3 linked regions of the Homo sapiens genome follow. The protein of the gene in region 1 interacts with the protein of each later gene in a biochemical or structural test. Each region holds a gene or a part of one and is shown in the gene's direction. Other genes may lie near its edges.

Evidence for each region.
Region 2: of the proteins of MAPK3 (region 1) and GAB2, one has a biochemical effect on the other in vitro, tested with the Homo sapiens proteins (2 studies listed by BioGRID).
Region 3: of the proteins of MAPK3 (region 1) and MBP, one has a biochemical effect on the other in vitro, tested with the Homo sapiens proteins (5 studies listed by BioGRID).

What each region holds. Positions count from the first base shown.
Region 1 is NC_000016.10:30,120,180-30,127,935, reverse strand, and holds the start of MAPK3 (mitogen-activated protein kinase 3), read left to right. Parts: upstream 1-4,715; 5' UTR 4,716-4,726; coding exon 4,727-4,896; intron 4,897-5,929; coding exon 5,930-6,112; intron 6,113-7,756.
Region 2 is NC_000011.10:78,225,548-78,233,031, reverse strand, and holds part of GAB2 (GRB2-associated-binding protein 2), read left to right. Parts: exon of another isoform or gene 1-667; intron 668-5,980; coding exon 5,981-6,567; intron 6,568-6,850; exon of another isoform or gene 6,851-7,484. UniProt on the Homo sapiens protein: Adapter protein which acts downstream of several membrane receptors including cytokine, antigen, hormone, cell matrix and growth factor receptors to regulate multiple signaling pathways.
Region 3 is NC_000018.10:77,129,511-77,137,168, reverse strand, and holds the start of MBP (Golli-MBP), read left to right. Parts: upstream 1-4,385; 5' UTR 4,386-4,589; exon of another isoform or gene 4,590-7,658. UniProt on the Homo sapiens protein: The classic group of MBP isoforms (isoform 4-isoform 14) are with PLP the most abundant protein components of the myelin membrane in the CNS. They have a role in both its formation and stabilization.

The sequences.
Region 1 (7,756 bases):
TGGGGCCGGGCGCAGTGGCTCATGCCTGTAATCCCAGCACTTTGGGAGGCCGAGGCGGGCAGATCACGAGGTCAGGAGTTCAAGACCAGCCTGGCCAACATGGTGAAACCCCATCTCTACTAAAAATACAAAAATTAGCCAGGCGTGGTGGCGGGCACCTGTAATCCCAGCTACTCGAGAGGCTGAGGCAGGAGAATTGCTTGAACCCAGGAGGTGGAGGTTGCAGTGAGTTGAGATCGAGCCACTGCTCTCCAGCCTGGGTGACAGGGCAAGACTCTGACTCAGGGGGAAAAAAAAGAACCAGCCTGGGCAGTATAGCCAGACTGTCGTGTCTACAAAAAATTTAAAAAATTAGGCCAGGCGCAGTGGCTGTCACCTGTAATCCTAGCACTTTGGGAGGCCAAGGCAGGTGGATCACTTGAGGTCAGGAGTTTGAGACCAGCCTGGCCAACATGGTGAAACCCATCCTAATAAAAATACAAAAAGAATTAGCCAGATGTGGTATTGTGTACCTGTAGTGCCAGCTACTTGGGAGGCTGAGGAAGGGAGATCATTTGAGCCTGGGAGGTTGAGACTGCAGTGAGCTGTGATCATGCCACTGCACTCTAGCCTGGGCAACAGAGCGAGACCCTGTCTCAAAAAAAAGGAAAGAAATGAAATGAAAAGAAAGGCCAGGCGCAGTGGCTCACACCTGTACCTGTAATCCCAGCATGATGGGAGGCCAAGGTGGGCAGATCTCTTGAGACCAGGAGTTCAAGACTAGCCTGGGTAACATGGTGAACCTCGTCTCGATACAATACAATAGTAAAGGCAAAGTGACATGAGAATCACAAGGAAATATCAGACAAACCCAAACTGAGGGACATTCTACAAAATAACTGACCTATAATCTTCAAAAGTCTACGGTCATGAAAGACCAGAATACTACTACTAATAATAAGAAGAATAAATAACTATTTCAGGCCAGGCATGGTGGCTCATGCCTGTAATCCCAGCACTTTGGGAGGCCAAGGTGGGCGGATCATTTGAGACCAGCCTGGGCAACACGGTGAAACCCCATCTCTACCAAAAATACTAAAATTAGCTGGGCATGGTGACACATGCTTGTGGTCCCAGCTACTCAGAAGGTTGAGGTGAGAGGATCATTTGAGCCTGAGAGGCAGAGGTTGCAGTGAGCCATGACCGCACCACTGCAGTCCAGCCTGGGCGACACAGCATGACACTGCCTCAAAAAAAAAAAAAAAGAAAGAAAGAAAGAAAAAAAGAAGTGCCAGACCTTGAAAATCACAAAAAGCTAATAACTGGTTTAAGATTTAATCTGGAGCCAGCCGAAGTGGCTCATGACTGTAATCCTAGCACTCCGAAAGGCCGAGGTGAGAGGATCACTTGAGCCTAGAAATTTGAGACCAGACTGGGCAACATTAGCTAGAACCCTTCTCTACAAACATTCTAAAAATTAGCCAAGCCAGGCACGGTGGCTCACACCTGTAATCCCAGCACTTTGGGAGGCCAAAGTGGGCAGATCACTTGAGGTCAGGAGTTTGAAACCTGCGTGGCCAACATGGTGAAACCCCATCTTTACTAAATATATAAAAATTAGCCAGGCGTGGTGACGTGTGCCGGTAATCCCAGCTACTTGTAAGGCTGAGGCAGGAGAATCGCTTGACCTGGGAAGTAGAGGTCAAGGTGAGCCGAGATTGTGCCATTGCATTCCAGCCTGGGCACAGAGGGAGACTCCATCTCAAAAAAAAAAAAAAAAATGCTGGGCGCAGTGGCTCACACCTGTAATCTCAGCACTTTGGGAGGCCGACACGGGCGGATCACGAGGTCGGGAGATAGAGACCATCCTGGCTAACACGGTGAAACCCCCTCTCTAATAAAAATACAAAAAATTAGCCAGGCATGGTGGCACACGCATGTAGTTCCACCTACTCAGGAGGCTGAGGCAGGAGACCCGGGAGGCAGAGGTTGCAGTGAACTGAGATTGCACCATTGCACTCCAGCCTGGGCAACAGAGCAAGACTCCGTTTCAAAAACAAAAAAAAAAAATTAGCTAGGCGTGGTTGTGTGTGCTAGGCATGGTGGCAGGATCTGTTGAGCCTAAGAGTTCGAGCCTGCAGTGACCTATGATCTTGCCACTACACTCCACTCCAGCCTGGGCAACAGAGCAAGACCCTGTGCTAGAAAAATAATTCTGCCGGGCACAGTGGCTCACGCCTGTACTCCTAGCACTTTGGGAGGCCGAGGCAGGTGGATCATGAGGTCAGGAGATGGAGACCATCCTGGCTAACACGGTGAAACCCCGTCTCTACTAAAAATACAAAAAATTAGCCAGGCATGGTGGCGGGTGTCTGCAGTCCCAGCTACTCAGGAGGCTGAGGCAGGAGAATGGCGTGAACCTGGGAGGCGGAGCTTGCAGTGAGCTGAGATCGCGCCACTGCACTCCAGCCTGGGTGACAGAGCGTAAGCTTCCACATCGTTTTCCCTCTGTCCCTTTTTTTGGGGGGGTGGGGGTGGGGGCAGGGTCTCTCACTCTGTCACCCAGGCTGGAGTGCAGTGGCACCATCAGAGCTCACTGCAACCTCAACATCCTGGGCTCAACTGATCCTCCTGCCTCAGCCTCCCAAGTAGCTGGGATTACGGACGCATGCCACCACACCCAGCTCATTTTTGTATTTTTGGTAGAGATGGGATCTCACTATGTTGCCCAGGCTGGTCTCCAGCTGCTGGGGTCAAGCAATCAGCCTGCCTCAGCCTCCCAAAGTGCTGGAATCACAGAGGTGAGCCACCACGACCAGCCAGCATCATTTTCCAGTTAAATGTTAATAGTATCTACTTCATATGGCTGCTGTGAGGATTACAGGAGGTAGTGTACATAAAAGTGCCTGGCAAGCCAGGTGCCGTAATCTCAGCACTCTGGGAGGCCAATGTGGGTGGATCACCTGAGGTCAAGAGTTTGAGACCAGCCTGGCCAACATGGTGAAACCTCGTCTCTACTAAAAATACAAAAATTAGCCGGGCGTGGTGGCTGGCGCCTGTAATCCTAGCTACTTGGGAGGCTGAGGTGGGAGAATGACTTGAACCCAGGAGGTAGGGGTTGCAGTGAGCTTGCACTCCTGCCTGGGTGATAGAGCAAGACTCCGTCTCAAAAAAACAAACAAACAAACAAACAAAAAAAAACCAAAAGTGCCTGGCACAGAAGAGATGGTAAGTCTACATTAGTTGAATATGCGTCTATGAACCAGAACAAATCCCAGTCCAGTCCTCCAAGGAAATGCCAACCTCAGTCACTAGAGGGGAATCTCAGTCACACTCTAACTGAGCTTCCAGCAGCAGGAGGTGGCAGCTTGCAGCTCTGATACACCAGCCTTTCCTATGCTGGGAAACTCACTCCCACTCAGCAAACCTGGCTCCATGCTGAACTCCATAGTGTTTTCTCTGAGTCACTATATTCTCCCGCAGTTGCAAAATGATCTGGCAAAAGTCCCTCTAGGGTTTTTACTGCTTACTGAGTAACATCCAAACTCCTTGCCAGAATCCAGAGCCTTCCTAATCTGGCCCCAACCTACCTCTCCAGGCTGAAACCTCATCATTTTTTTACTGCAGCCATGCTGGACAAGTTATGCTTCTGCCTTTATGCCTCAGCTCACCCCGATCCTTCTCCTTCATGCCTTTCTTCAGTCCCTACCTTCTGCAACCCTACTTTTTCTCTTCTTCTTTTTGTTTTTTGTTTTTGAGACGGAGTGTTGCTCTGTCGCCCAGGCTGGAGTGAAGTGGTGCAATCTCAGCTCACTGCAACCTCCTCCTCTCGGGTTCAAGCGATTCTCCTGCCTCAGTCTCCCAAGTAGCTTGGATTACAGGCACGTGCCACCATGCCCAGCTAATTTTTGTATTTTTAGTAGAGACGGGGTTTCACCATGTTGGTCAGGCTGGTCTCAAACTCAGGTGATCTGCCCACCTCGGCCTCCCAAAGTGCTGGGATTACAGGCGTGAGCCACCGTGCCCAGCCCCCCAATTTTTTTTTTTAATTAGCAGGGCGTGGTGGCGCGCACTCGTAGTCCCAGCTCTTTGGGAGGCTGAGGTGGGAGGATCACTTGACCCCAGGGAGGTTGAGGCTGCAGTGAGCAATTATTGCACCACTACACTCCAGCCTGGACGACAGAGAGAGACCCTGTCTCTATAATAAAATAAAAACAGTCTAGGACTCTGAGAGGCATGGAATTAGAAAGAGTCTCTGTGTCAGAAGACACCATTTTGAGTCTCAGCTGTCACTACTAGTGACCTTACCCAAGTTAGTAAACCTAACTCTCAGATTCTCCATCTGTAAAATTTGATCCATTTATTAGAACATTATTTTTAACCTAGGGTGATCCCGGGCCCAGGTTCTGGTGGGCTGCCGCATACATTGGCTGGGTGGCTCTGGTAGGTCACGCCCTGGCCGCTTCGCCATCGAGGGGAGGGTGAGGACAGTCTCCGAGGCGGCGCTGCCGAACCTCCCGGTGACCTGGAGGCCGCGGAGCCCGCAGGGACCCATGGCCCCCGAACCTGGGGCAAGAAGGGCGGGCGCGCGCGGGGCGGGTCACGTGACAGCTCCAGGCCCACGCGGGGCCGGGGCAAGGGCGGGGCCTGGCGCGCGCGGCCCTGCGGGTGACAGGCAGGCGGGAAGGGGCGGGGCCTCGGGCGGGGCCGCCGTGGGGAGGAGGGCGGTGGGAGGGGAGGAGTGGAGATGGCGGCGGCGGCGGCTCAGGGGGGCGGGGGCGGGGAGCCCCGTAGAACCGAGGGGGTCGGCCCGGGGGTCCCGGGGGAGGTGGAGATGGTGAAGGGGCAGCCGTTCGACGTGGGCCCGCGCTACACGCAGTTGCAGTACATCGGCGAGGGCGCGTACGGCATGGTCAGGTGAGGGGGCGTTCCGGGGGAGGGGGTGCCCTCAGGGGAGGGGGCTTCGCGGGAGAGGAGGAGGAGGCGCCGAGCGCTTTCCGGGACGTGGAGACGCGGAGCGTCCCGAGGAGGCAGGAGACTCGGGATGATCGGGAGCGTCCCAGGGAGGGGGCCCCTGAGTGCTTTCTGGGGGAGGGGGCGCTGCCTACGTCCTCAGGGGAGCAGGCTTGGAGGCTTTGAGTCCACCCTTCTGTAATGATGGGAGGGGCATCCGAGTGCATGTGGGGGCCCGCGGGGACCCTAGTGACACGGGGCGAGGCCCAGAGGATGAGTACTCTCGGGGAGGCGACATCCTTAGTGAAGAGGCAGTGGAGGGCCCGTTTTGGGGGAAAGGGTGTCTTGGATTCCCCCTGTGAGGCAGTGCCAGGGAGCCTGGGGGAGAAGAGCCGAGATCAGGGTGGGGCAGGGCTTTGGCCCCACCACCCCAGGGGCCCAGAGAGAGATGAGGCGGCCAGGAGTGCCACCTGCATGTTTTGGGAGGGGTCTGTGAGTGCCCCCGGCCCCACCGTGTGCTCTGGGCCTCTATCCCTCTGGGACAGCCCCGCTGCCCGGATCCCTCACCCTGGGACCCTCCCCTGCCCTGTCCATTCTCTCCTGCCCCTCCCCTGGCTGCCACCTTCCCAGTATTTGCCCCATGGTGTGTCCCCAGCATCTGCACCCCCGGACCTGTCTTGGGTTAAGGAGCCTTTCCTGGGAATGGGGGCGAAGGGTTCAGGGCCAGTAGAATGGAAGGGGATTGAGGAGAGGGGAAGTCAGTGAGCGGTCAGTCTCTTCCTCTGTTTGTAAAGTCACCGAAGGGCCGCCTGGCTGGTCCCCAGCTTTCTCTCTGGAGATCCCAGGCCTCCACAGCAGGAAGGAACCAGCATTGTTTATGATTTGACCAGAGCCAGCTCCTGCTCTCTCCCCTCCCTGCCAAGGCCTGGGTGGGGCCACCAGGCCCGGACTCCCCCTTTGTAAGGCCACAGCAGCAGCCTCTCTCCGGTCCCCTCAGCTCGGCCTATGACCACGTGCGCAAGACTCGCGTGGCCATCAAGAAGATCAGCCCCTTCGAACATCAGACCTACTGCCAGCGCACGCTCCGGGAGATCCAGATCCTGCTGCGCTTCCGCCATGAGAATGTCATCGGCATCCGAGACATTCTGCGGGCGTCCACCCTGGAAGCCATGAGAGATGTGTATCCTTCACCTTGGCCAGTCGGCTGGTCAGGCACGGCCTCGCAGCTGGGCTGGGGACCCGTTGCTTGGTTTCTGTTTCCATCTTACCCACCACCCTCCAAAACAAACCCAGTAAAATAAACTTTCCTGCAGAGGGGAAGCCACAGTGTAACAGGACTTGGAGACCTCTGATGAACCCAGGCCTGCAGCGGCCCAGGCAGTATGGCCTCGAGCAAGTGGGTTCTCTGCTCTGTGCCCCAGGGGGAAGGGCTAGGCAGGATGGTCTCTATGGGAGTGGTGTCTTCTGACGTCGGCAGTTCTGAGACATGACCTGGCCTCTGCCCACAGTCACTTCTTGCTAAGGAATGGATGATTCTTTCCTCTCTTTCCTCCTTGCCCAGACCGGAAGGGAGACAGGGAGAAAGAAAACTGTCAGCTGGGCGTGGTGGCTCACGCCTGTAATCCCAGCACTTTGGGAGGCTGAGGTGGGAGATTACCTGAGGTCAGTAGTTGGAGACCAGCCTGGCCAACATGGTTAAACCCCATCTCTACTAAAAATACAAAAAAATTAGCGGGGCATGGTGGTGCAAGCCTGTAATCCCAGCTACTTGGGAGGCAGAGGTAGGAGAATCGCTTGAACCCAGGAGCTGGAGGTTGCAGTGAGCCAAGATCGTGCCACTGCACTCCAGCCTGGGTGACAGAGCGAGACTCTGTCTCAAAACTAAACAAAAACAAAAAACTGCCTTTCTTGAGGGCCTGCTGTGTGTCAGGTACTATACATGCCCAATGCTTTTTTTTTTCTATTACACCTCCCAACTACCCTATGAGATGGGCTTTTCAGCTTCATTTCAAAGATGAGGGGTGGAGTGCAATGGCTCACATCTGTAGTCCCAACACTTTGGGAGGCTAAGACCAGAGGATCACTGGAGGCCAGGAGTTCAAGACCAGCCTGGGCAGCATAGTGAGACCCCACCTCTACAAAAAATTTAAAAATTATCCAGGTTTGGTGGTACACGACTATAGTCCCAGCTACTTGGGAGGCTGAGGCAGGAGGATGGCTTGAGCTTAGGAGTTCGAGGCTGCAGTGAGCTATGATTGTGCTACTGCACTCTAGCCTGGGGGACAGAGCGTGACCCTGTCAAAAAAAAAAAAAAAAAAAAAGATGAGGAAGCTAAGGCTCAGAAAACCTAAAATCAAGTGTTTCTGTTGCTGTCTCCTCCTCTCCTCCCCCAGATGGGAACTTGTCCTTCTTCTTAGGACTTCTCACTCAGAGCCACACCCTAATCACCTGTGGACTTGCACCTTGCCCAGGGAGGGACAGCCTAGCCTTGGCTGTCCTCCCCCAATACTGCTTTCCTAGTTTGCTGTCCACTTCCTGTCTGGCTCTCCTTAGCAACTTATGACACCTGTCACTTCTTCCCTGCCCCACCCACCCACTCTCAGTCCCAGCCCTCCACCCAAGAGTGGGGATTTGTACTGAGGTGTCTGCAACCCCCACCACAAACTGTGGACAGGAAATCTCCGTGCTCACCCCCAGCTCGCTGTGTGATCTGAAGCAAGTCACTGCGTCTCGCTGGGCCTCCCCAGCCCTAAAACAGCAGGGCTGGTCCACATATTCTCTGAAGACCCTTTCAAGGCTGATTCTTGTTTTCTTTGTTTTTTGT
Region 2 (7,484 bases), on another chromosome or scaffold:
GCCAGGTATTGGTAAGTATATGAATAGACTTTAATCCTGTGTTTCCTCTAACATTCACATTATATACTAGGTGCTCTGGAAGAAAGAAATGATGCTTTAAAGTTTACAAAGCACTTTTACATTAGGTACCTCATATGATCTCCAAAGTAATCCTGTAAGATTATTTTTGAGTAGGGGGTATAAAGTGAATCAGCCCATTCATCCTGCCTCGCATAGACTAGACATAACTGTGTCTGATTGGATTACTGAGGCTACTAATACCAGCCTTCTATCTATCTCTTTTTTCATTTATGTGGGAACCTGATTGTAAAGATACAGTAAATTAAGCACCTTAGAAATAAAACTGTGAATTATGTATTTATCATCACTTTTACTGCAATAATAGCCACTAGTCTTCCTTCAAGTACTAGATAATATGTATTCTTGCTAAAATAACTTCATTTCTCAAAATGCAGGTCTTCCACTGAGCTAAAATAAGTAACTATTCAGAATAATATCTATTGCCAACGGAAAGAGTTTTGAACTGGCAGAGTCAAGACAAATAGAGTTCTTTTTCTCTTTGAAGACAAGTTGGTTTCACTGGACTTATTTTTGTCCTCCAGCCTTTGGGGCCTCATTCCAGATTCTAGCCAGTGTCTGTCTTCTTATTTCAAGAAGGCTGTTAAACCTGTAACAGATGATACATTGATGTGAGTCACATGCCCTGAAAAGCCATAATTCTGGTGAGGGTTACTAGGAGTGAAATTTCATTGGTGAGATTCCAGAATCACTGACCCTGCAGCAGTAGTCTATAGAAAGATGGTGGGTAAATGGTAAAATTAGAAATGTCAGTGGAGAGCTTACCCATCATTAATCTTTTCTAAGTCTTCCCTGACTCATTCACCAGAGGCTTTGATTGACTGACCAAAGGCAAAATATACAACTTTTAGTTTCACATATACAGCTTTGCTCTGTAACCAGAGTCCTGCCAAAATTGGCTCAGAACTGCAGCCAGAAGGGTTTGAGATACAAAGATTGCCTCATCTCATAAAGATTTGTGACACAGAGTTTTCTTCTTTCACAGGAAGGATCCATTTGGAATGGGTCAAATGCAAGAGGATAGTTCAAATGACCTCTTAAACATGGCCAGTGACAGTTACAGAACTCTAAATGGTGTTTAATCTACTTACAAGCATTTTATATTAAGTCACCCTTAAATGGGAACATACTCATTGAAAATCAAAGTGAGTCCTTCATCATTAGGGTTCTTGGAGTCCAGTGGGATAGAAAAAAGCAAAATCATCATATAGTATGGTATATAAAATTATATGAAAATGTGTGGAAGAACAAGTACAAAATGAAGTGGCTAGAAAAACTAGAAAACCATTTTTAAAAGCCAAGGGAAGGCCGGGCACAGTGGCTCACGCCTGTAATCCCAGCACTTTGGGAGGCTGAGGCGGGCAGACCACGAGGTCAGGAGTTCGAGACCAGCATGGCCGATATGATGAAACCCCGTCTCTACTAAATATACAAAAATTAGCCAGGTGCAGTGGTACGCTCCTGTAATCACAGCTACTCAGGGTGCTGAGGCAGGAGAATCGCTTTGAACCCAGGAGGCGGAGGTTGCAGTGAGCCAAGATTGCATCACTGCACTCCAGCCTGGGAGACAGAATGAGACTCCGACACACACACACACACACACACACACACACACACCACACACGCGCGCGCGCGCACCAAGGGAGAGACTGTATGGTGGCAATAGCCTCTATAGCCTCTGGAAGAGCCATTGGCCAGGAATGGAAAGGGAAGGCACTTGGCACTGCTGGCTTGAGGGAATATCTTCTCTCAAACTTCTTTTTGATTCTGGGGAGCTCCCATACGTGCTTGTGTTTGAGTATCTTCCTGCTCCAACTCTGCCATTTACTGTTTTCCTCATCTGATAATGTGAAAGTAAGAGGTGTGTCTCAGAACTATTAGGAGGATTTAAAATGAGATCACATGTGATATGTATGGCATAGTATCTTGCCTATTTTATAAGGCTTCTGTAAGCCCAGCCCTGGAAGAGAAGCCTCTCTCCAAATCCACCACTTCCAGGTGGATTATCCATCCCACAAAAGCAACTCAGGTCATCACAGTGACACAGGCCTCAGTTAAGGTTTACATGAAAATACTAAAGGCCATAAGACTGCTGAGTATTTGGAATTCCCCATCTAGATTATTGCCCAAAGGGACCACATTTTAGCATGGTTTGCGCAGTGGGGGCACCCAGAGACCTGGCTGCTAGAACAAATTCCCTGCCCTCTGAGTATGTAACTTTGGGCAAGAGTCCCTTGTTCAACTCCTCTTACTTGGTTACTGAGGTGATAATCAGTCTCCCTCAACATGTGTCACTATTATCTATCATATGCCTGGCACTATGCCAGGGTACAGGATATGGCCCTCTGCCTTCTAGGAGCACATGGTCTGGTAGAAGTGGAAAGACACAGACCTGAATAACTGACATAAGGCAGAATAAGGTGAGTGTTGCGATGGAAGCACAGAGTGCTGTGGTAGCACAGAGGAAGGAATGATTACCATAAAAAGGAGAATTAGGGACCTGTAATACCTTTGTAGAGTGAAAAGGCTTCTTGTGGACTTTGTGTAAGGTGTTGATGTATCAAGGAAGCGTTCCACAGGGAGGTGAGTAATGCAAGACCAGGGCTGAAGTTTAGACTACACAGGACATGTTTAGGGATGAGTGAGTAGTTCTGTGAGCGAGACAGGAGGATGCCGGGGTAGAGGGAAGTTGGAACGTAAGCTAGTGGGTTCTACAGAGGAAGGGCTTTGATCTGCTGATCAGAAGGTTTGGGCCAAGCCCAGGAAAAGGGATAGCAGCAACATACGTTTGTTTATTCATTTGCTTACTTACAACAAACGTTTATTCATTATTTATAATGCAACAAGCATTAACCTAGGTGCTAAGGAGAGAAAAATGAGTAAGACACAGTTTCTTTCCTCAAGGAAATCACAGTCTGTTGGCAGAGATAAGTAGTAATGGTGCCTAATATAGGTAACACTTGCTACCTGCTCCAAGAACAAAGTTAAGCAAGTGATTAAGTTAAGCAATGCTTAGAGGTAGAGGATGTAAGAATGGCCTTAAAAAATGTGTCTTCTGAGATGAGTTTGAAGGATAAATGGAGTAGGAACTTGCCAGATTGAGGTAAGAAGCCTTCCAGACACAGCCCAACAATGCAGCAAAGCCCAATGCTTGACTAACTGGGGCACACAGGGAACACTGCAAAGTTTGGTTTGGATCCTAGAGTGGAAAAGGGAACTAAAGAGAAAAGATTGGTGAGATGAGTTGGGATAAACCTAGGAGTTTGGGCTTAATCCTGAAGCATTGAGGCGGTGTTGAAAATGTTTACACTGGGAAGTTAGGAAAGTAAATATTAGTAGGATGGAAGGATCAGAGAGGCCCTGGGCAGAAATCATAATGTGGGTGACTCCCAGGTTTCTGGCTTGAGTAACTGTTGCCATTCCCAAAATAAGAGAGGCAGGAGGAGAAGAGTTCCAGAGGAAGATGATGAGTTCATTCTTGAGTATGTTGAAGGTTATTGCAGGGTGCCTGTGATGCTCTTGCAACCCCATCCCCACCTTGAAATCCTTCAGAGGCTCCCCGTTCCCTTTAGTCCTGGCCTGGCCTCCAGTGTCTTCTCTCAGCCCTGCCTTCTAATGTGCTTGCTGCAGCCTGAGCAGCTTCGAGTTTCTAGAACTTGCCAGGTTGTGTTCTACATCTTTGAGCCTTCAACTAGAACACCATTTCCCTTCTCCTGCCTTCTGCCTGGCCAGTTGTGGCTCATCCTTCCAGACTCACTCAAGATAAAACATCTCTGAAGGAGGCTTCCCTGACATTGTCTACCACCACCCCCAGCAAGGGCTGATACCAACTGTCAGCAGCTACATACTCACCCCTACTTGACTGTAATGATTTGCATCCATGTCATCTCCTGCCCTACTGTGACATTCCCAGACCACCCCTCACTGGGCAGGTGGCATCTCTGTATCCCTTTTGCCTGGCCCAGATGGAAATTAGGACATCAGTAAATGTAAAATGAACAAATCCAGATGGGAGCATCCAACAGAGAGTTGGAAATTCCAAAAAAAGCAAAATGAAAGGCACCAAAAAAATGCATACAACATTAACACCTTATGTCTACCATTCGCTCCCCCCGCCACCCCCGTCCTCTTCCCTAAGCACTACATTATCTAAAGCCTAGATGTTCAATCATCCAAGCCCATGGCTGTTGGCTTGGTTATGTGTCTGGAATGGAACAGAAAGGGAGGAGGAGTGCAGAGGCCCAAGGAGGAGCATCAGTGAAGGTTTGGAGACTGACCTGGAATTCCTAGCCATCATGGTGGGTACAGTTTACATGAGAGGAAGCCTGGCTTTACACACCTGTTTCCTCTTTCTAAGCTCTGGCCCCTATTTTCTAACACCATCTGGTGGCCACATCTGTAAATAACAAACTCCTCAGGAGCTGAGAGAGCTTCTATAAGGCAAAAGGTCCAGGGATTGGCCTCAGAGGGCTATTATGTATTACAGCCCCAACAAGTTTATATGTATACGAGATTTGCCTTTTCTGATGAGACACTCCAAGAGCTTTTGACCAGAATCTTAAAAACTCCTATAGCCTCCAAAAGGCTTAGAATCCCTGCTACAAAGGATTGATTCTTTTTTTCCCCAAGTGAAATCCTATGAAGAATCATACACAAGCTAAAGAAGCAGACCTAAATCCCTGCTTGCTCAGAACCTCACCCTCCAATTTCCCAAAGCACTTACAGAGAACCTGGAATCTAGTTTGAAAACCACTCTTGTGAAACGAAGGGCTTGTAGAGCATCGGGGCCAGATGGGCCCTTAGAAATCATTGTGACGTACTAGGTCCCACCTGAGAGAGGAGGCTTGGTGATACACACAGCACGTATCAGTAGCAGTACTGGAACCTAACACAAGTCTCCCCTCTTGTTTCTCTTCTCTTTTTACTGCTTGCCTTATTGCCCAAAACCTAAATTTAAAAATGTACTAATCAAAACTTTTTCTATATATAGTTCCCAAACAGGAAACCATTCTTCATATAGATTTCTAGGTCTCTGGAAAGAGATCTTTCCCCTCAAAATGCCTCTTAACCAACCATAAATCATGGTAGAAAATAAATCTAGAGCTTACGTTTGAATAGTTTGTTGTTTGTTTGTGTTGGGGCGTGTGTTTTTTTGAAACAGGGTCTCATTCTGTTTACTAGACTGGAATGCAGTGGTGCGATCATAGCTCACTCTAACTTCGAACTTCTGGGTTCAAGCGATCCTCCTCCCTTAGCCTCACCAGAAGCTAGGACTACAGGTGTGCAGCACCCTGCCCAGCTAGTTCTTTTTTTTTTTTTTTTGGTGGCAATGGAGTCTTATTGTGTTCCCAGGCTGGTCTTGAACTCCTGGCCTCAAGTGAACCTCCCACCTCAGCCTCCCAAAGTGCAGGGATTACAGTCATGAGCCACTGCACACTGCACCTGACCCAAATAATTCTTTTCAACTTACAACATCAATACCCATGGGCTAGTTTCACAGTGGCAGAATAGACTCAGAGAGGTAAAATGACTTGTTTGCTGTTTCCTGTCATCAACTTAAAGGTTCTTTCCACTGTCTCACAACATTTGTGTTCGAATGTGCATATTCTGCGGTACTTAAAACAGTGAACAAATAGGCAATCCATCTGGCTTATTGATACTTGTTCAGGGAGTGGGGGTTATAACCCCTGCTATTAACTGCCATTTGGAGATGGGGGACGGATGAAGTCTAACATTGTTTAAACATTCATATACTAGAGTCTGAACAACCTTCAAAATATGCTTTTAGTCACCATTTTACAGATGCCTAAACCAAAGTATAGAAAGAGAAAGTGCTTTGCCTCAAGGTCACACAGCTAGTAATTGTCTCACCCTCCTGCCCTTTCCCTTCTTTCTCTTTTAGGAGTGCCAGCTTCTCTCAGGGCACCAGAGCCTCTTTTCTCATGAGGAGTGACACAGCTGTACAAAAACTTGCCCAGGGCAATGGACACTGTGTCAACGGGATCAGTGGTCAAGTCCATGGCTTCTATAGCCTTCCCAAGCCGAGCCGGCACAATACAGAATTCAGAGACAGTACCTACGACCTCCCCCGCAGCCTGGCCTCCCATGGCCACACCAAGGGCAGCCTCACAGGCTCCGAGACAGATAATGAGGATGTGTACACCTTCAAGACGCCCAGCAACACCCTGTGCAGGGAGTTCGGGGACCTCCTGGTAGACAATATGGATGTTCCGGCCACCCCACTCTCAGCCTACCAGATCCCTAGGACATTCACTCTGGACAAAAACCACAATGCCATGACAGTGGCCACTCCTGGGGACTCAGCCATAGCTCCCCCACCCCGCCCCCCCAAGCCAAGTCAGGCAGAAACACCTCGATGGGGCAGTCCTCAGCAGAGACCGCCAATCAGTGAAAATAGCAGATCTGTCGCTGCCACCATCCCCAGACGCAACACCCTCCCTGCAATGGACAACAGCCGACTTCACCGAGGTCAGTATAAGTCCTAGCTGAGACTCAGAGGGAGGAGGAGGTAACACAGGGGTTCTCAATAGTTTGATGGTCCTTGGTCATCCATGGCCGAGGGGAACTTACGAACCACCTAGGTCACTGATACTCAAAAACATAGGTGTCTTCTACCCAGATCCCTTACCAGTTGGTCCTCCAGCACTGGAGGCTGTTAGTAGTAGTTGTCTAACAGAGCTAGCCCCAGAGAAGTTAATGTTCTACTAATGGAGAATAGGACATTCTTGATTAACCACAGTATAACATATTATGGGTTTAGAAGCCCAAATCATTGTATTTTATTCATTTGTAAATCAAATCAAAGATTTAAAAAATAAATTCAGAAGATCAGTCCAAACTGGAGTGAAACCTGTGTGGACTAACAGACTGCTAAAGCAAAACGAGGTCTTAATATTTTCTAAATCATACTTGAATCTCTTTGGTTGAAGTCAAAACTTTTATTTGAAGTACCTAAATTCTATTGTTACTTGTTTTCCACTGAGAGTATTCCAACTCTGCATGTAACCTCCTCTGTATGATGAAAAAATAGAACAATATTAATTCCTTTCATTTTGCATCTTGCTTTATGGTTTGCAAAGCCTTTTCTTGTCCATCCTGTTGTTTAAGCCAGGCAGAGAGGTTGGTGGGACAAAACCTCCTTGTCTCCATCTCACATGAGGCCAATGACAGTTAAGAGACTTAAATAGAGTTGCAGAGTCATTGTGCCAGAGATGAGACTCAGACCCTAGAGTCCCAGCTCCTAGTTTAGACCTCTTTGCCGTCTTTCAATCCATCGACAATTTGAGCAGTCATACTCCGTTTTGGAACTGAGATGATAAAGACATACATAAAACATGTTCCTGCCCTTCAGAGCTTACATCTCATTGGGAAAATAAAACCAACAC
Region 3 (7,658 bases), on another chromosome or scaffold:
TCTCGTTGCCTGGCCCTGCTGTAACAGAAAGTCACCATCTGGGAGGCTTCACAACAGAAATGTAGCTTCTCAGTCTGGAGGCCAGGAGTATGAAATCCAGGTGTGGCCAGCGCTGTGCTCCTGCCAGGGGCTGCAGGGGAGGGTCCCTCCGTGCCTCTCCCAGCTTCTGCTGCCCCCAGCATCCCTCAGCTCCGGGATGTATGACTCTCACTTCTGCCTCTGTCTCCATGTGGCCTCTTCCCTCTGAGTGTCCCCTCTGCTTACAAGGACATGGCCACCGCACCGGACCCCCCCAAGGACCTCATCTCCACCTGATGACACTAGCAAAGGCTATTTCAAAGCACAGTCACTTTCCCAGGTATTAGGTGGTCAGGACTTCGAGTTCTCTCTTCGGGGACACAGTTCAACCCTTAACAGTGAACTTTCACTGTAGAAACACAGTTTTTCCACCTTTGAGGACAAACTCCAGAGAAAGGAAGCCTGGTACAGGAAGAACGTGGAGGCAGGAGGGGCACCGTGGAGGCAGGTCTGGGTCAGAAGTGGGAGGTCCCCAAAGCCAGGGCCAAGCCCTCCTGGTTCCCACTCACCCTGCCTCTGAGCCCCTCCCTCCAGGGCCCGTCTCCCTCCCTCAGAGCTGGCTGCTGACCCCACCCCTGCAACAGGGCCGCTGTCTCCTCACAGCCTTTCCTGGCTCCCTCTGGGGTCTGCCATGGCTCCCATGCACATTCACACTGTGCATGCTCTGGACTTCCCGGCAACCCTCCCGTCCTCTCGGGCTGCTTCCTGGGGCTGGTTATTAAGATGTCACATTTAATCCCCTTGTTATAGGAGCATCAAATGTAGCACAAAGTCCAGCACACACACAACCCCCACCCACCCCACAGACCTGGCTAAGGCTCTCCTATCCCTCACTCTATTCCTGCCCAGTCCAGCTCCTTCCCAGCTCCTGGGGAGGCTGGCACTCATTCCACCACCCCCCGCAGGGAACTCTGTTAACTAGATTGGAAGCTGAGTATTCATTCCTTTTTTTCCCTATGTCTTAATCTAACCCTCTATTAAGGACTGCACATCTATCCCCCCAAAATTCATATGTCAAAGCCGCAACCCCCAGGGAATGGTATTTGGACATGGGGTCTTTGAAAGATAGTTCGGCTTAGATTGAATCCGTGAGGGTGGCCTCACAATGGGATTAGTGTCTTTATAAGAAAAAGAGGCCACAGCCCAGTCTCCTCCCCTTCCTCTTTCTCTCCCTCCACCACCCGACACACATAGAGAAGGTGCTGTTTATGAATCAAGAAGCAAGCTCTCGCCCAACGCCAAGTCCGCCAGCACCTGCATCTTGGACTTCCAGGCTCCAGAGCTGGCATAACATCTGTTTTTAAGCCATCCAGTCTGTGGTATTTTGTTATAGCAGCTGAGCTGACTAATACACCCTCACGTGGGAAGTAAGCCCCACTGGCGAGGTTGTGAATATATATTGCAACAGAGCGAATAGATGTAACGTCTGAAGAGCCAGCCCAGAATTCCTCTGAAGTACCACTTGTTTGGAAACAACTGTGATCAACCCCTGGATGAATGAGGGAGACCTCCACACCTGGGTATCCACCGATGCCTGAGCTGCAGAAAGAGAGTGTTCAGCCCTGATATGAGGATGACTATTACCTCCACACTGCAGATGAAGAGACTGAGGCTCAGAGAGGTTTAGACCAGGTCTGAAAATCATATTCAGTCCTGGCCGGGCGTGGTGGCTCAGGCCTGTAATCCCAGGACTTTGGGAGACCCAGGCAGGTGGATCACCTGAGGTCAGCGGTTCGAGAACAGCCTGGCCAACGTGGTGAAACCCCATCTCTACTAAAAATACAAAAATTAGCTGGGCATGGTAGCGGTTGCCTATAATCCCAGCTACTCGGGAGGCTGAGGCAGGAGAATTGCCTGAACCTGGGAGGCGGAGGTTGCAGTGAGCTGAGATTGCACCATTGCACTCCAGCCTGGGCCACAGAGCAAGACTCCATCTAAAAAAAAAAAAGAAAGAAAAAAAAAAGTTCAGTCCTTTCCTAAGCAAAACATCATAACAAAGACAAATCTGTTGATGAGGAAACTAAAGAAAACTCAAAGTTCGTGCAGTCTGAGGTCTGTTGGAAACTATTTAGATTCATTTACTTCCTTTAGCTTGGGTAATTTGGAGTTTAATTCAGCTTAACAAAAATTTATTGAGTGTATTTCATGCACAAAACATTTTGCTATTTGCTGCCATATGAGATGATGGATAGGTCAAACTTTCTGCTCTCCGGTACCTTGTGAAAGATGGGGGTAACTGCAATGTGATTTTCTTAGAAATGTCAAAGACACAATGAGGCTTTGATGGGTTACTTGTCAAAAGATGCCTTTCAATTTTATTCAGCACAACGAATCTCTGTCACTTTGCTGAGGGCTACATGGACATCTTCATGTGAAAGTTTGTCTCTCGACAGTGAAATGCCAGCCTCTGTTTCTTCCATCCACTGTCCTCAACCTGGGGTCCTTTTTCTAACCGGGAGGGCATGAAAGCCCCCAAGATAAGACCAGTTGATCCAAATGTGAATCCACTGTTTTATTAAATAGTATTATCTACATGTTTTCTTTGAAGAATCCATGACTTTTCTAAACTGCCTGGCTGCCCATCTGTGTGGACACTCTATCCCAACAAAATATGCACGGTGAAATTTCATAAATACTTTAAAAAGACTTTTAACTGGAACTTGTGGAGCCTGACATTTGTAGGGCTGACTGTTGGCATATGTAGTGTTTCAGGAAACCACTGTAACACCAGCAGAAGGAGCACCAAACAGAAGGCCGCGTGTGCAGCTGTCACTGTGGCCTGAGGGACGCTCCAGAGCCCAGCACACAGGGACATCTGCAGGCAGGAAGGTGGCCCCGCCCTGTGGAGTCACTGAGATAAAGCCAAGAGATATTTTGGGGAGGAAAAGCTGTTTCTGATGCTAAAGCAGGTATCTAAAATGGGACCCATTTTAGTGTTCCAGCTTCCCCAGCCTGAGCTTTGAGTGACTTGAGCTGGGACCTGGGTGCACCCGGGTTCATTGTCACCACCCGTGCTCCTAGGGCAGCTGTCCAGCCTCCCACGCCCACTCCGCTCATCCTTGACTTAAAGTGAGGTTGTGGGGCAGAAAAATTGGAGAAACACACTATCTTTGGCACCCTTTTCCCTCCTCACCTTCAGCCTCAAAGTCTCAGAACCCTCCTGCCCCCTCCACTTGAAAATCTCTCCTGAGGAAACGACCAGACTGAATGCTTTTGCGTCGTTGTGGAAGTATTTCTCTTCCAGTTGCCAGCATTTGAAGACAGTTGCTAAATCCTCCGGGGCTTTGGGGGAGGCTGGTTTTAGGCCGAAACCCCGACCCCGTGCTGAAGTCTGAGTCCCGCCTCCCAGCGCGGGCCGGGACAGCGCTCACCCCTCTCCCTCACTTCCTAACAAACTGTGTGGGTCCCAGGCTGCTCCAGGTCCCCTGGAAGCTCCAGATCCAGATCCCTGACTGGGGGTGTAGGTCAGGAGGAACGCGGGGCCTCATTCTGGGACTCCCCCAACCTCCTCCTCTTCCACCATCAGGAGGCTGAGAATCCAGAGAAAGATCTCTGACCACTAAATCTGTGTGCAGGTGAGTCACGGCTAAACAGCAGGCTTTTTCTTTTTAACAAGACAGCGACGAAGACCACGATGTCTCTGGGCTGCAGGACCAGGCTGCTTCCTCGCACCTGCGCGTGTTTTGCTGTCTTTTCCGCGCACGCTTCCTGCGCCGGTCCTGCAGGAGAAGGTGCGCCCCTAGCTCCCAGCTCCCAGCTCCCAGCTCCCAGAGGAGCACCTGCCAGCCGGACATGGGCCTGGCCTGGGCTCCAGGGGAGGGAGGGAGTGCCTTGGGAGGACCTGCCGGCTCCTTTCGCCTCCAGGCCGGGCTGACTCTCCTCCTGCAGGGCCGGGGCTGCGCCAAGTCTATCGGCAGTTTCTGGGGTTTCCAGCCCCTGAGGACGCGGGGAGATGCGGCCTGGCACCCCTCCCGCGAGGTCGAGGTCGGGGTCGGGGTGGGTTCGGAGGCCAAGCCTCCGAACGGGAAGGGTCGACGGGCCGCAGTTCGGAGCCCAGTTCGGCAGCGGGCGAGGCTCCAGGCCGCCCCTCCGAGGTCTGACCCTGCGCGTGGGCCCCGTGCGCCCCCCAAGTTCCGCGTGGGCAGAGCGGGCCCGGGGTCCTCCGAGCTCCCGGGGCGGCGCCGGCGGCCGCGTCCAGGTGGGGCGGGCCCGGCGGGATCGGCCTGTGTTTACCTGGCTCGCAGGAAGCCCGGGGAGGCGGGGCCGGGGAGCTGGGTGCGCGCCCGTCCCTCGGAGCCGCCGCCGTCAGTCACCGCCGCCGCGCGCCAGAGAGAAGCAGCCTCCGGCCCCGGCGGCCCCTGTCTCCCGACCCCGGAAGGCGAAGCAGGCTGCCCGGGGACCCCGCGCGTGGGCGCTTGAAGCCGAGACCAGCCTGCCCGGGCCTGGGCAGGCGGAGCAGGGCCTTGGACCCCGCGGCGCCCCTCGGCCTCGGAGCAACGAGCGCAGCGCCGGTGGGTGACCCTCGGGGACGGGCGGGCTGCTCTGCCGCCTTTGTCTCTGTGCCCCTCCGAGTGGGGACCGCGGAGACCTGGGCGGGACCCCGGACCGGAGCCCCGCGGGAGCCGGGGGCGCAAGATCGGGGACAGGAGCTATCCCGACGCCCGGACTCCGGGTCCCTTTCTTGGCTGGGGACGCGCAGGGAGAACCTAGGCAGCGGAGCAGGTGGCCGAGCAGGTAGCAGCCGGCGGCCTCCCTGACCCGAACCCAAGTCGCCGCCCCCGATCCCCATTGCGCGGGGGCTGGGCGCGGGTGTAGACGCGGGTTTACAGCGCCGGGGCCCGACCCTGACAGGTGTCCAGGGGTGGACTCCAGCCAGGCCCGGCGGTCCCAGGGTCGCTGAAACCGCTCGGCCTCGGGCCGTGGGGCTGAGGGGAGGAGTCTAGGGTGGGAGGGGACGGCGGTCAAAAGCGGCCACTCTGGGCGGGTGTGGAGAGGGTGCTGGCTGCCAGGGCGGGCTGGGGGGTCCTCCCGGCTCGCGGCGCCTGCTAATCACACCCCGGGGGCCCCGCGCGCGATCGCGCTCCTGCCCCTGCCCCCGGGGCGAAGCGCAGTCTCCCTCTGAGCTCCAGGGGCGGCCAGGAGAGCCCGGGTCCGGGCTTCCGCCTTCGCAGGGCCTGTCTCGGGCTCTTCGGCCGGGCCCGTCGCTGCGCCCACCTGGGCCCACGTGCGCCGCCCGCAGCCGCCCGCCGGCCCGCCCGGGTCTTCCCGGCAGTCCCCTCCTGGGCCCCACTGCCTGTCCTGGGCCGGGTGCGTCCGTTTTCCGTGGCCCCCGAGGCCGGGGTGTGTGACCTGCGGTCATTTGCCGCCACACTAGATTTTCCGGGGTGCTGGGGGCAGCGCCTTGTGTCCTTTCGCGTCCACCTGAGCCCCCCCGTTTTGGAAGGTGGAGTGGGGCTTGGGAAAAGGTTCAAGCGTCTTTGGGGACCCCCGTGCGACTCTGGCTGGAAACAGGCGAGCTCTGGTTCCTTGTTCCGTTTTCCAATTGCAACAACGTGAGAATCAACAAGTGCTCGGTTTCTCTGCGCGTGGGTGAGGGGCGCGTGGGCTCGCTGGGTGCTGGGGTGGGGAGGGGGCGTGGACTTCGTTCCGGGGAGGCCTCTGCCTCGTCTGACCACAGAACGCCCCGCCTGGAAAGAGAGTTTTTCAGAGGAAGGAAACGTCAGGGAACTCCAGTGTGTGTTTTGGACATTTTATCTGGCGAAGCTCCGGGGGACAGTTTAAGGACGGTCACCCTCAAGTCAGGGGACCGTATGGATTGAGCAGGTCCCGCACTGAGCTCCCTGGCGGCCACCTCCAGTGATGAGCACCTCCTTAGCGGTTGGGGCCGGGGCTGTGGTCACGGCTGAGAGCCTGGAACCCAGCCGCCCTTCAGTGGAGGAAGGCCAGGGGAAGGGTACCGCGGCAGAGGGGGTGTGTGTGTGTGTGTGTGTGTGTGTGTGTGTGTGCGCGTGCGTGCGCGCGTGTGTGTGTTTTGTTTTTTGAGGTTTTGTTTTTTTTTTTTTTTTGTGGGAAAAACAGAAATCTGAGGGAAAAGAACACAGTTAAAAATTGCTGTAAATGCTGGAGTAACTCCCAGGGAGTTAACTGTTCTGAAACAACCACTTCTACTAACTCCGGGTTAAACAAAGCTATTTTGTTCAAATCCTCTTTGAAAATCCTCCAGAAGTATCACAGTTCTGCCCAAAGATAAGAAAGTGTAAGACACGTCGCTTGTTTTACACCTGGTAGCTCATGGCTCCTCCATGATTTAAAACGTCGGGTTTGAGTTTGGTCAGTGGTGGTCCTAGCTGTGTGCGCTGATTAAAGGTAGCCACGAAACGCTGGGGAAAAAAGAAAAAAAAAAAACAAGAGACCAAACTTTCTTGTGATGTTTCTATTTCTGCCTGAATTTGTAAATGTTAATTGTAAGTTATTTTGTTTGACTTTTAATCCTCCTCCAAGTTCTTTAAAAATATGACATGCTTAAGATGAGCAGCTGCCTCTGTGCCTTTTCTGTCGCCTGGGAGTGTTTATCGACTGCTTGCACGTTGCCAGACTCTCTTTTGAGAGCGGTTTGTCACCTCGGATAACAGTCGGGACGGCCCTAGGATGCCCTCACTGGATGTCACCATCCTATTCATATCTTCATTTTTTACTGTTGAGGAAACAAGGCCCAGAGAGGTTAAGTTACTCTAAGGGCACACAAGAAGAGGCGGGATTCCATCCGGGGAGTCTGCACCAGCGCCTGACTGCTGCTCTGCACCGCCGTGGTGAGAAGGATGCCTTGCAAAGGTGCTCCTCGTTCCTCCTTTTAAAATTCCACCCCAATGATGAGTGAGTGTACCCAGAGATGTCCCACACAGGTTTCCTTTCAAGAATGATTTCACCATAAGGCTACTGTCATCCGTCTTTGTTCATCATCTTCTCCTTAGCTTTCTTAGTTGTCAATAAAAAAGAAAAGAAAATATTCTAATTACTCCTTTTCTTTTTCTTTTTTTTTTTTTTGACAGAGTCTTGCTCTGTCACCCAGGCTGGAGTGCAGTGGTGCAATCTCGGCTCACTGCAACCTCCACCTTCTGGATCCAAAACAGTCTCCTGCCTCAGCCTCCCCAGTAGCTGGGACTATAGGGGCGCACCACCACACCTGGCTGATTTTTGCGTTTTTTTGTTTGTTTTTGTTTTTTAGTAAAGATGGGGCCTCACCATGTTGGCCAGGCTGGTCTCAAACTCCTGACCTCAAGTGATCCACCCACCTCGGCCTCCCAAAGTGCTGGGATTACAGGCATGAGCCACCGCGCCTGGCCTCTAATTACTCTTGGGATAATTTTAAATAAGTGGCCATTAAGTAGTAAGACACTTCTGTTGGCCCATTGGAACCCGTGAAGGAAGCTCTGGAGCTGTTTAAGGGAAGAGTGCTCATGCCACAGGCCCTAATGCCAGCTGAGCAGAAATGCCAGGCGAGTAGCTGGAATAGTCTCTACAGGAGATTTTAAATCTCTGTCAAAACCTGTAGTGGACAGGCTTCATCCAGAGAAACAGAA